2 linked regions of the Homo sapiens genome follow. The protein of the gene in region 1 interacts with the protein of each later gene in a pairwise test. Each region holds a gene or a part of one and is shown on either strand. Other genes may lie near its edges.

Region 1 (7,960 bases):
AACAGATTCTTCGGCTGGGCACAGTGACTCATATCTGTAATCCCAGCACTTTGGAAGGCTGAAGCAGGAGGATCTCTTGAGCCCAGGAGTTCGAGACCAGCCTGGGCAACATAGTGAGACCCTGTCTCTACAGGAAAATTAGCAAGCAAGGTGGCACACTCCTGTAGTCCCAGCTACTTGGGAAGCTGAGGTAGGAGGATCACTTGGGCCTGGGAGGTCAAAGCTGCAGTGAGCCCAGATCACACCACTGCACTCCTGGGCGACAGAGTAAGACCCTGTCTCAATAGCAATGACAAAATAGATTCGTGCACTCCAACAGATACACAATTCCATGGGAGGCCCTGGAAACCTGTAGCATTCACACATTCCTCCAGATGAATTTTATTATCAATGATTAGCAGAAAAAGGGCGAGATGAGAGCCCAGCTCTCAGGTGTGGAGAACTGCTTGGCAGTTTCCCATCAGGTTAAACATTCACTTCCCAAAACTTAGCCATCCCTAGTCTTGGGTATTCCCAATAGAAATAAGTGCTTGGCCGGGCGCGGTGGCTCATGCCTGTAATCCCAGCACTTTGGGAGGCCGAGGCAGGCAGATCACGAGGTCAGGAGATCGAGACCATCCTCACACAGTGAAACCCCGTCTCTACTAAAAAAATACAAAAAAAATTAGCCGGGCGTGATGGCGAGTGCCTGTAGTCCCAGCTACTCAGAAGGCTGAGGCAGGAGAATGGCCTGAACCCAGGAGGCGGAGCTTGCAGTGAGCCAAGATCGTGCCACTGCACTCCAGCCTGGGCGAAAGAGCGAGACTCCATCTCAAACAAAAAAAAAAAAAAAAAAGAAAGAAGTGCTTATGTCCACCAAAGACAAGCACGAAGATACTCGTAGCATTATTCATAATGGCCCCAAACTGGAAACATCCTGAATGTCTATCCACGGGAACATGGACAGATAAATTGTAGTATTTCCACACAAGGGACTACCAGGCAGCAATGAAAAAGAATGAAGTACTGATATATACAGTAGCCGTGTGGATTGAATTTCACAGGCATACTGTTGAATGAGAAGAGCCAGGCATAGCTCGCAGCGGATTCCACTCATCTATGGTGATGGAGATCAAAATAGTGGTTACCTCTGGGTATCTGTGTGTAAATTCTGCTCCCTAACAGGACACAGGGAAAACTTCCCAGGATGGCAGTCAGAGCCACAAATCAAGACTTACCTGCATTTGGGGCTCACCTGAGCGGCCTTTTCTTGCTTGCTTGCTTATTTGCTTTTTTGAGATAAACAATATACATTGAGGTGTACACAATGCAGTGAAAAAAGCATACAGCCCAGTGAATCTTTACATGTTTACACTGAGTATTGAACTTCATGCAAAGTGCTGTTCTAGGCCCCTGGAAAGGGAAGCCAAGGTTATGAGACACAGACTGTGTCGGTATGGATTTCATAATCTGGTGGAGGAGATATTACAATACAAGGTGGAACGATGACTTTTCATCCATTCACCCATGGGGTGTTTTTCTTGTTTGTTTTGTTTTTTGAGACAGAGTCTCACTCTGTCGCCCAGGCTGGAGTGCAGTGGCACGATCTCGGCTCACTGCAAGCTCCGCCTCCCGGGTTCATGCCATTATCCTGCCTCAGCCTCCCTAGTAGCTGGGACTACAGGCGCCTGCCACCAAGCCTGGCTAATTTTTTGTATATTTAGTAGAGACAGGGTTTCACTGTGTTAGCCAGGATGGTCTCGAACTCCTGATCTCATGATCCGCCCGCCTCGGCCTCCCAAAGTGCTGGGACTACAGGTGTGAGCCACTGCACCCCCATGGGGTGTTTTTGAGCCCCTGCTCTATGCCAGGCACTGAACTAGACAGGGGAAATGGAGTAGCAACCAAGACCCCACTCTACCGTGAGGGTTTTGGAGAGGAGCGCAACTAATTGATTCTACCTCCTAAACATTTTCCAAATTCATTCCCTTGCCTCCCACTGACCCTATCCTAGTCAGGCTGCTACCCTCTCTCCTCTGCAGCTCTCTCAGTCCTTGCCCCTGATTCATTCTCCAGATCAGCAGCCCTTACCTAAGTGCTCAGCCGAAAAAAATTCAAAATTGATGACTGCCCCTGGCCCAGGCAGCTCCGGTGCTGGCCTGTGTGGGCTCAAATCTTCACTTGTAGGATCTATAATTGTGACCACAGGCAAGTTCCTGATATGTCCTGAGCCTCGTGTGTGTCTTCTATAAAATGGAGATGAAATAGTATTAACAACAAAAACCATACCTGTCTCCCTGAAGAGGCTAGGCTTGCACCATCCACTACTCCTCCCAGTGCCTCTCAATGCTGGTCACTCCTGCCTCTCTGAACTACCCAGTGATAGAAAGCTGCTTCTGTTCATGAACACACCCTTTGGTTTCAAGGCCTGAGACTCTATAATTGGTGCCCCAGTTTGACGTGTCTTTCCCTTCACCTTCTCTGGCTGGGTCTTACTCAGCTCCAGACTCGGCCTAGGCATTGCCTCCTCCAGGAGCCTTCCCTGAAGCTGCCTACGGGGCTGGGTGCCCCTGTGTGGGCCCCCACAACACCCCGGATTGAACTTCTCTGTCTCCTGTTTCTGTTTGTCTCCACTTGCTTGAGTGTGGGCTCCTGCCGGGCAGGCTGCCTCTGAGTTGCTGAATGAAACTCTTCTTTGCGCCCCTACTGTGGACCCCTCCAGTCCAGTGCAGGTGCTGGATGTGCCTACTGACCTGAGCAGAACATGCTGAGCACTTTAAGGGAGGTGGCCTTGAGGAATGGGCAGGACATCAAGAAAGAAAATATATATATATATATATATATATATGTATGTATATATATATTTTTAAACAAGTTGTACATGCAGACAATACTAAATTCAGCAGAAACAAAAGGGATTGCAATGAAAATTAAAAGTAGGTCACCTCTCAACCACCCAGCTCCCCTCCCCAGTGGCCACCTCTTCTATCAGTTTCTGAGTATTCTCTGCAGGGCAGAATTGTCAGTCTTCCGTCCCTTTTTTATTTTGCAAAAATTTAAAGCAACAGAAAAGTTGCAAGAATAGTACAATAAGGCCGGGCGCGGTGGCTCACGCCTGTAATCCCAGCACTTTGGGAGGCCGAGGCGGGCGGATCACGAGGTCAGGAGATCGAGACCATCCCGGCTAAAACGGTGAAACCCCGTCTCTACTAAAAATACAAAAAATTAGCCGGGCGTAGTGGCGGGCGCCTGTAGTCCCAGCTACTCGGGAGGCTGAGGCAGGAGAATGGTGTGAACCCGGGAGGCGGAGCTTGCAGTGAGCCGAGATCCCGCCACTGCACTCCAGCCTGGGCGACAGAGCGAGACTCCGTCTCAAAAAAAAAAAAAAAAAAAAAAAAAAAAAAGAATAGTACAATAAACACCTTTTGCCTAGATTCACCAATTAACATTATGCTACTTAACAAGCATTATATCATTTAATGTTCACATTAATTAATTAATGCCAATTTTGTACATGAGGTCACTGAGGCACCAGGCAGGTTAAGGGACTTGCCCGAGGCCACAGAGCTCCTGCCTGGTGGAGCTGGGCTTTCCCCCTTAGGCTGCCAAAGGACTTTGATCTGCCTTCCCACAGCTCCCTTTTGAGGAAAAGCATTTTCTTACACTAAGTTGAAATCCACCTCCCTGGGATATTTACCAGATGATCCGTGGAAAAGTACACAGCTCTGGAAGCATTTGCTACTTCTCCTCCTAAAACCTCCTCCATTCCCTGAGCGACAGCTGCTGTGGCTGCCACTACCACATGCTCCAATGTCACCTCCTCCGTGAAGGCTGGGTTAGCTCACCCCCCTGTTTAAAGACTCACCATGACTCCCAGCTGCCAGTGGGATGACATGTGCACGCCTGGGCTTGGAATACAAGGCCTGGGTGATAGAGCCCTCTTCCAATCCCTCTTGCTCCTTCTTCCCCTATCTCCACTTCCAGCCACACTCAACCCTCTCACTGTCCACTTAAACTTCCCCTCCTCCTTGAAGCCACCCGAATTTTTCTAAAGAGCGCATTTCTCCCCTCTCTGGGCTCCTGCAACCTTCTGCCTGAGCCTTTGACAGCCTTTTCCAGGTTGTCTTTTGGCCAGGAGGCTGGACAATGGAGGACGGGAGTGACAGCTCGGCCCCTTCCTAGCAGAGTGATCCTACACAAATTACTCCAGGTGTCTGACCCTTCATTTCCTCAAGCACATCATGGGGGAAAGAATGCCTAGCTCAGCACCTGGCAGAGAGTCAGCCTTCGCTCATCTCCCCTAATGGAGCTGACAGCTCTTCAAGTCCGCTGACATCTTCTCTTAGTCATCCCTTGAAATACTACCCGCTGTTACTTCTCTGCTCCTCAGTCTCCTCCTATGTAAAATGGGGATGAGAAAGGAGAGGTTGCGAACCTTTAATGAGCGAGCCCTTGGAGTATCCAGCCCTTCCCGACGCTAACTGACTCCTACGAGGGGGCCTGGTACACAGTAGGTGCTAAACTAATCCTCTCCGAGCTGGGCTTGGGGAAGATGCCTCCGTTGGGTGTACAGCGTGGGCGCGGGAAGGCGAGCCTGGGAGCGAGGGGGTTGCAGAGAGGCAGCCTGAGGTCGGCTCCGCCTTCCCCCGCATCCCCCGCCCGGGCCCTGCAGCTGTCAGCCCGGCCGGCCTCGGCGCCAGTCCACCAAACCTGAACGTCCCATGCCGGCGCCCCCACCTTCCCGGCCTGCACAACTTACCTTGCGCTCGGCGGCCCTCGGTCCCGCCCCCGACTGCCATTGGCCCAGAGGTTCCTTTGTTAGCGAGAGCGCGCCAACCCCATTGGCCGGTGGGGCTGCCGATCGCGTCGGGCGCGGCCCCGCCCCGTACGCCCCGGCACCTCCCCGCGCCCGGCCGCCCGCCCGCCCGCCCGCCCGCCCGCCCCCGTAGTGCGTGAGGCGCTCCGGTCCCATTTGCAGCGGCCGCGGGGCGCCGAGGGCAGCTGCGGCGGCGCGGACGAGCCGGGACGGCGGCGACCGGAGCCTGAGAGGCGGGCCGCAGCGGGAAGCAGCGGGCCCGAGGCCGCGTCCATGGGCCCGCGGCGGCCGGGCGGCGGCGGTGCGGGCGGGAGCTGGGCGTCGCGCGCGCTGTGAGGCCCGGGCGGCTCAGGAGCCTCGGCGCGTGCAGCGAACCGCCCGCCGGGAAGGAGGCCGGGCCGGGCCTGCGGCGGGGCCGGCGAGGGATGCGGCGCGGCCGCGCTGAGCCCCTAGCCCGCCGGGAGCGCCAGGCCGGCCAGGCCTGCGCCGCCGCCGCCGCCGCCGTCGCCGCCGCGCCGACCATGTCGGCAGCCAAGGAGAACCCGTGCAGGAAATTCCAGGCCAACATCTTCAACAAGAGCAAGTGTCAGAACTGCTTCAAGCCCCGCGAGTCGCATCTGCTCAACGACGAGGACCTGACGCAGGTGAGCGACTGGGGCCGGCCCGGACACCTCCGTTCTGGGAGCCGCGGGTCGGCGGCCGGGGCGCCGCCAAGGGCTGCAGGGAAAATAAAAATGGAGCAGGGAAATGCGCGAGTCCTGGGGCATGGGGACGGGGACGGGAAGTGCATTGACAGAGCTGGGACAAAGGGAAAATCCTCGAGTATGCCGAAAAATAACATCCTTTCCCGTTCCCATTGCCCGGCTGTGTGATTCATGCTTTTTGGGTGACTCAAAAGTGCCTGGTTTCGCTTAGTAGGAACAAAGCGCTTAGGGATTGCATGCCGCTTGACGGGACCCCCCTGAGATTCTGGCTTGGGACTGGACTTGGATTTGTCCAGCCAGAGTGGCCCAGGGGTCGGATTGTTGGGGAGGACTGTGGGCTTCCGTCTAGTGGGACGCAGCCTGCCCCGATTCTGAATCATCGTCACTGTCAAGCACTGGAGAGAGGTGAAGGGGTGTCCAAATCTGGCGAGGAGGGTCTTGTTCTTGAACTTAGTTTGGCAGGCCGTAGTTTAGCGGGGAGCTGGGACCAGTTCCCTGGTCACTGGCCGAGGGGTGAGGAGACCTGTGGGTCCTCGGGAAAGTTGATTTCTGTCTCCCAGCCTTAACTGTCAAACAGGGCTTTGAACTAGTTATGACTCCCAAACGTGCATTAGAGTCATAGCCATTAAACACAGAGTTCTGGGGCCCCCGCCCTGGAGTGACTGGGGAGATGGGGAATTTGTATTGATGAAAGGCTCCAAGAGGCTTGGCTGCAGCCCCCATGGCCCTTGGGAACCCCTGCAGTGATTGCTGTTTGAACTCCTAGTGTTCCAGGATTCCGAGCCTTGTGTGCACCTCCTTGGGATGTGCCTCGGTACCCTCCCCACGGCCATCATCTCCATCCTCTTCAGAGCTTTCTCTCAGCCTCCTGAATGAAGCCAGGGGAAGTCCCTTCACATTCCAGTCCAGTGTGACCTAGTTGTAGCCACTCCTGTCGCAGAAGAACCCCTTAGACTGAAAACGAGTGAACGGGCCTGGTTGTTTTTAATGCCACTTCAGTGCACCCAGGGTTTGACTTGTTTACATGGCCGACTGGAGTAGGGTGGTGGGGCAGGGGTTACGGCCTGGGGCACGGGGCCTTTCTCTGAGGTCAGGTTTCCAACTGCCAGGAAAAGATTCCTTTCATCTAAACCCCAAAAGCTTAACGAAACACTCAAGGCTGCAAAGTCATAGATGGTTAAGATACCAAGGGTTTTAAGGACGGTCAGCTTGGGACGGATAGAACTCATTTACCTCGGAGGGTGTTTTGGAGTGTAAAGGAGAACTTGATTCCTTCTTCTCATCTGGATGCTTTTTTGGATGAAACAGTTTATGCGATGAGGAGTTGTTAGGAGACTTTGCTTCAGGTCTTGGCTGTCACTTCCAGCTGTGTGACCTTGAACAAATCCCTTTACTTCTGTATCTTTTAATTTCCTTATCTGTAAATTGGGAATCCTGGTCCCTGGCTTACCTCCTTCACTGAGCATTTGTGAAAAGCAAGAAATGATATTTTATGAAACTTTTTTCTCTTACAATTTAACAAACCAAAAAAACCTGCCACTTTAAGAAGTTTCTGGGCAAGGGTTGTTCTGAGAGAGGTTTGTAAGTTTCCTGGTTATTCTAAGCAACTGTCAAAATTGGTAAATTTACACCTCATAGGGGCTGTTTTCGAATTCTTAAGCTTAGATAAACTAGGATGGAATCTGCATGTTTGAGTCCAATCTGCTAAGATTTTTTTTAATCTGTTGATTATTAATTGGATTCACGGGGAGAGGCAAACTTAAAATACTGTACTCTCACTGTATTCAAAGTTGAATTGTGGGTTTTGAAACAGGCCTGAGACCTTCAGGGCACAACTGGAATGGTAGTTTCTGAAATAATGAGTGGGGTTATTTGTGCTGGGAGAGGTTAGCCCAGCATTCTACCTCCTGGGATCTTTCAGGAAGAAACTGCTCTTGAAAAGAGAGGAGGGAGACTCAGGGCTGTTGCCAACAGCCTTCTCTGCTGCTCTCTGCATCCGGCCCTCCCTCTCACTCTCATCCTTATGGCTCCATTAGAAAACCTCAACCAATCGGTTCCCATCAGTCTCCCCCAAGCCCCTGCTTCCTGCTGCCCCTCCCAGCCTGGAGCTTATTTTAGACCGTCAAAGCTGGAAGATACATCAGCCACCATCGAGGCCACTCCCTCCTTAAGAGGAGAGGATACTGGGCCCAGGGAGGTGGTGGGCAGCCTTGGCCGGCTTTTGCTCTGGAGATGTCATCTTCCCAGGAGCAGACATTTCTCTGAGCCTTTTGGTTTGAGGTTTATTTCCTCAGCTGTGGGTTTTGTTTGTTTGTTTTTCCCCTAGAGAGGCACAGAAACCTCTTGCAGGGACTGTATTATGGCATCAGACCTGGAAGGGACTTGGAGATCAGCTAATGTAACCACTTCCTCTTACCGGTGAGAAGATTGAAACCCAGAGAAGGGAAGTGACTTGCCCAGT
Region 2 (3,503 bases), on another chromosome or scaffold:
GGGTCTGAGGGAGGAGGGGCTGGGGTCTGGGCTCCTGGGTCTGAGGGAGGAGGGGCTGGAGGTCTGGACTCCTGGGTCTGAGGGAGGAGGGGCTGGGGCCTGGGCTCCTGGGTCTGAGGGAGGAGGGGCTGGAGGTCTGGACTCCTGGGTCTGAGGGAGGAGGGGCTGGGGCCTGGACTCCTGGGTCTGAGGGAGGAGGGGCTGGAGGTCTGGACTCCTGGGTCTGAGGGAGGAGGGGCTGGGGCCTGGACTCCTGGGTCTGAGGGAGGAGGGGCTGGAGGTCTGGACTCCTGGGTCTGAGGGAGGAGGGGCTGGGGTCTGGGCTCCTGGGTCTGAGGGAGGAGGGGCTGGGGCCTGGGCTCCTGGGTCTGAGGGAGGAGGGGCTGGGCCCTGACCCCAGCGTCCCCTGACTGTCCCCTTTCCCTGCCAGGGTGTGACTCTTACAGACCTGAAGGAGGCAGAGAAGGCTGCAGGGAAGGCCCCAGAGTCAGAGAAGCCGGCGCAGAGCCTGGTGAGAGGGGTCAGCGAGGGCGAGTGGGGTGGTGCGGGATGTCCTGCTTCCCTGACTCGCCTCCCCCTCCCGACAGGACCCTTCCCGAAGGCCCCGCGTCCCTGGAGTGGAGAACTCTGACAGCCCTGCCCAGAGAGGTGAGGTCTGCTCTCGGGGAGGTCATTCCCAGGGAATCATCCAGTTTCTCCCATAGTCTTCTTGCTTTCCTGGGGGCTTGACCCGGGGACCCAGGCACCGAGAGGGGGCTCTGGAGGTGCCTGGGCTGATTCCTGCCCCTCCCCCAGCAGAGGCGCCCGACGGGCAGGGTCCGGGACCGCAGGCGGCCAGGGAGCACCGCAAGGTCGGAAAGGAGTGGAGGGGGCCTGCGGAGGTGAGGGGCTCAGGTGGGGCCGAGCTGGTGCAGAGGGTGGGCCGGGGGGCGGGCAAAGCCCTTCCCATACCCGCTAAAGTCCCTCCCATACCCATTGAACCCCCGTCTACCTGCCCACAGGGGGAGGAGGCGGAGCCGGCTGACCGCAGCCAGGAGTCCAGGTAGGGGCGGGGTGGGAGAGGTGGGGTCTGCGTGCGGGCCGGGCCGGCCCCTGACGCGCGCTCCTCCCCTGCCCCAGCACCCTGGAGGGCGGCCCCTCGGCCCGCAGGCAGCGGTGGCAGCGGGACCTCAACCCAGAACCTGAGCCAGAATCGGAAGAGCCAGACGGAGGCTTTAGGACGGTGCGATCCCACCCCTCCGTCGGGGCTTTGCCTGCTGGGTGCCCAGCTTCCTGGCTTCCCCGCCCCCCCAGCATCGCCCCATCCTCCACCTGACCCTCCTCTACCTGACCCCCAGCTGTATGCAGAGCTGCGCAGGGAGAACGAGCGGCTTCGCGAGGCCCTGACCGAGACCACGCTGCGGCTGGCGCAGCTCAAGGTGGAGCTGGAGCGGGCCACGCAGGTAAGGGCGCCGAGGCCAGGGTCACGGGAACTGGCAGGGCCGCCTGGGTGGGGCTTAGACTGCTGGGAGGTAGAGCCTGGCCTGGGGGTGCCGGCGGGGCTGGGCTTCACTTGAGGGGCGGGGCCGAGATCTCGGAGGCGGAGTCTGAGCGAGGGGATGGGGCTGTGGGCCTGCCGGTGGCGGGGCCTGGCCCGTGGGGGAAGGGCTTGTGGGCTGCCTAGTGGGCGGGCGGGTGCCCAGCAGGAGCCTAGGACCCTTCAGAGCAGTGCTGGCTTCTTCTGCTGACCCCTGTGCTTTCTGTGTCCTCACCAGAGGCAAGAACGCTTCGCTGAGAGGCCAGCCCTCCTGGAACTGGAGAGATTCGTGAGTAGGGGCAGTGGGGATGGGGGCCAGAGGCGTCCCCAGCCTCACATCCCTAAGTTTGGACCAAGGGAGCCACATTGCCCTTCCCAGCTGGCCCCTGGCCTTCCCCTGCCCTCCTCAGCCTCACTCAGTTTCTGCACTTTCCCTGTTCATTCCAGGAGCGCAGGGCCCTGGAACGCAAGGCCGCAGAGCTGGAGGAGGAGCTGAAGGTGGGGGCTGTGGGGGCTGTGGGCAGAGGGCCGAGGGTGGGTGGGGGTGCAACCCGCCAGGGCTGCCCAGCTGACCCTTGCCGTCCCCCAGGCCCTGTCTGACCTCCGCGCTGACAACCAGCGCCTCAAGGATGAGAATGCAGCGTTGATCCGCGTCATCAGCAAACTCTCCAAGTGACCCGGAGGGACTTTCCCGCACCCGTATTTATACAGCTGCTTCTGCCACACGCACCCCTTCCCCCGTGTGAACACGAGTGACAGGGCTCCGGGGGAAGTCTCAGAGAAGCCATAGCCCCCCTGGGACCTCCGGACTGGGAGGGGAGCAGAGTCCCCAGGAGCCGAGGGGGCCACCCGAGGCCAGGATGGAGGTGGGAGGCCGAGCCAAGCAGGGGGACGTTGCCAGAGGGGACCAGGGCCAGAGACGGGACCAGGAAGGAACTGAGGACCAAGAAGTGCAAGGATCAGTAGCCAGGACCAGAGTGGCCGCCTGGAGGTCCCCATCTCACGTGTGATGCCACCCCGTCACCCCTCCCCTCCTGAGCAGGGATCCAAGAATGTGCCAAGAGTCCCGCCAGCCTCAGCCAGGTGGGCCTGTATATAGGGTCCATGTGCAATAGGGAGGGACGTCTTCTATTTTTTGCTGCCCCCTCCCCGCCCACTGTCTGGGGCAGGGGGAGAAGGTATTTTCGAGATAAAGCACAGGCACCACAAATAAAAGTCGTGAAGTTGCCACTCAAGCTCTGTGTTCCCAGCCAGAGGGAGGGCACTGTTTCCTGCTCCTGCTGGGGGGCCGTGCGTGTCCATGACCAAACCACTGGGCCACTTGGGTGGGTGCCGGGGGATGGGCTGGTGCTTACTCACCTGTGTGGTGAAGGAGCTTCAGGATGAGCCCCCAGCGGGAGCGAAGGCTCCAAGACGGAGCCCGCGTGATCGCAGGCGGGGGGCTGAGGGGAAGCTGATGGGGCAGGAGGGATCAGCGGGCAAGACCTCTGGGGCCAAGGATGTGGAGCTGGGGAGTTTGGGTTTTGCCATCAGTGTCTTTGAAACAAATTTAGTCAATTGCCAACATTTAACATTTGGAGAAATTTGTGTGTAAAAATCTGGAATTTTGGCCGGGTGTGGTGGCTCACGCCTGTAATCCCAGCACTTTGGGAGGCCGAGGCGGGCAGATCATTTGAGGTCAGGAGTTCGAGACCAGCCTGGCCAACATGGTGAAACCCCTTCTTTACTAAAAATGCAAAAATTAGCAGGCGTGGTGGTAGGTGCCTGTAATCGCATCTACTCTACTTGGGAGGCTGAGGCAGGAGAATCGCTTGAACCTGGGAGGCAGAGGTTGCAGTGAGCCAAGATCGAGTCACTGCACTCCAGCCTGGGCAGCAGAGCGAGACTCCATCTCAAAAACAAACAAACAAACAAAAAACAAAAAGAATTTTGCCTTCTTTTGAAAGAACAGGAATCTGTGACAATATGAACTTTTCAGTCCTGCATA

Evidence for each region.
Region 2: the proteins of MPRIP (region 1) and PPP1R12C interact in a two-hybrid assay, tested with the Homo sapiens proteins (one study listed by BioGRID).

What each region holds. Positions count from the first base shown.
Region 1 is NC_000017.11:17,037,533-17,045,492, forward strand, and holds the start of MPRIP (myosin phosphatase Rho-interacting protein), read left to right. Parts: upstream 1-4,924; 5' UTR 4,925-5,220; coding exon of another isoform or gene 5,221-5,316; coding exon 5,317-5,439; intron 5,440-7,960. UniProt on the Homo sapiens protein: Targets myosin phosphatase to the actin cytoskeleton. Required for the regulation of the actin cytoskeleton by RhoA and ROCK1.
Region 2 is NC_000019.10:55,090,161-55,093,663, reverse strand, and holds the end of PPP1R12C (protein phosphatase 1 regulatory subunit 12C), read left to right. Parts: intron 1-430; coding exon 431-511; intron 512-587; coding exon 588-648; intron 649-795; coding exon 796-881; intron 882-1,001; coding exon 1,002-1,042; intron 1,043-1,119; coding exon 1,120-1,222; intron 1,223-1,337; coding exon 1,338-1,442; intron 1,443-1,754; coding exon 1,755-1,805; intron 1,806-1,963; coding exon 1,964-2,014; intron 2,015-2,105; coding exon 2,106-2,192; 3' UTR 2,193-2,746; downstream 2,747-3,503. UniProt on the Homo sapiens protein: Regulates myosin phosphatase activity.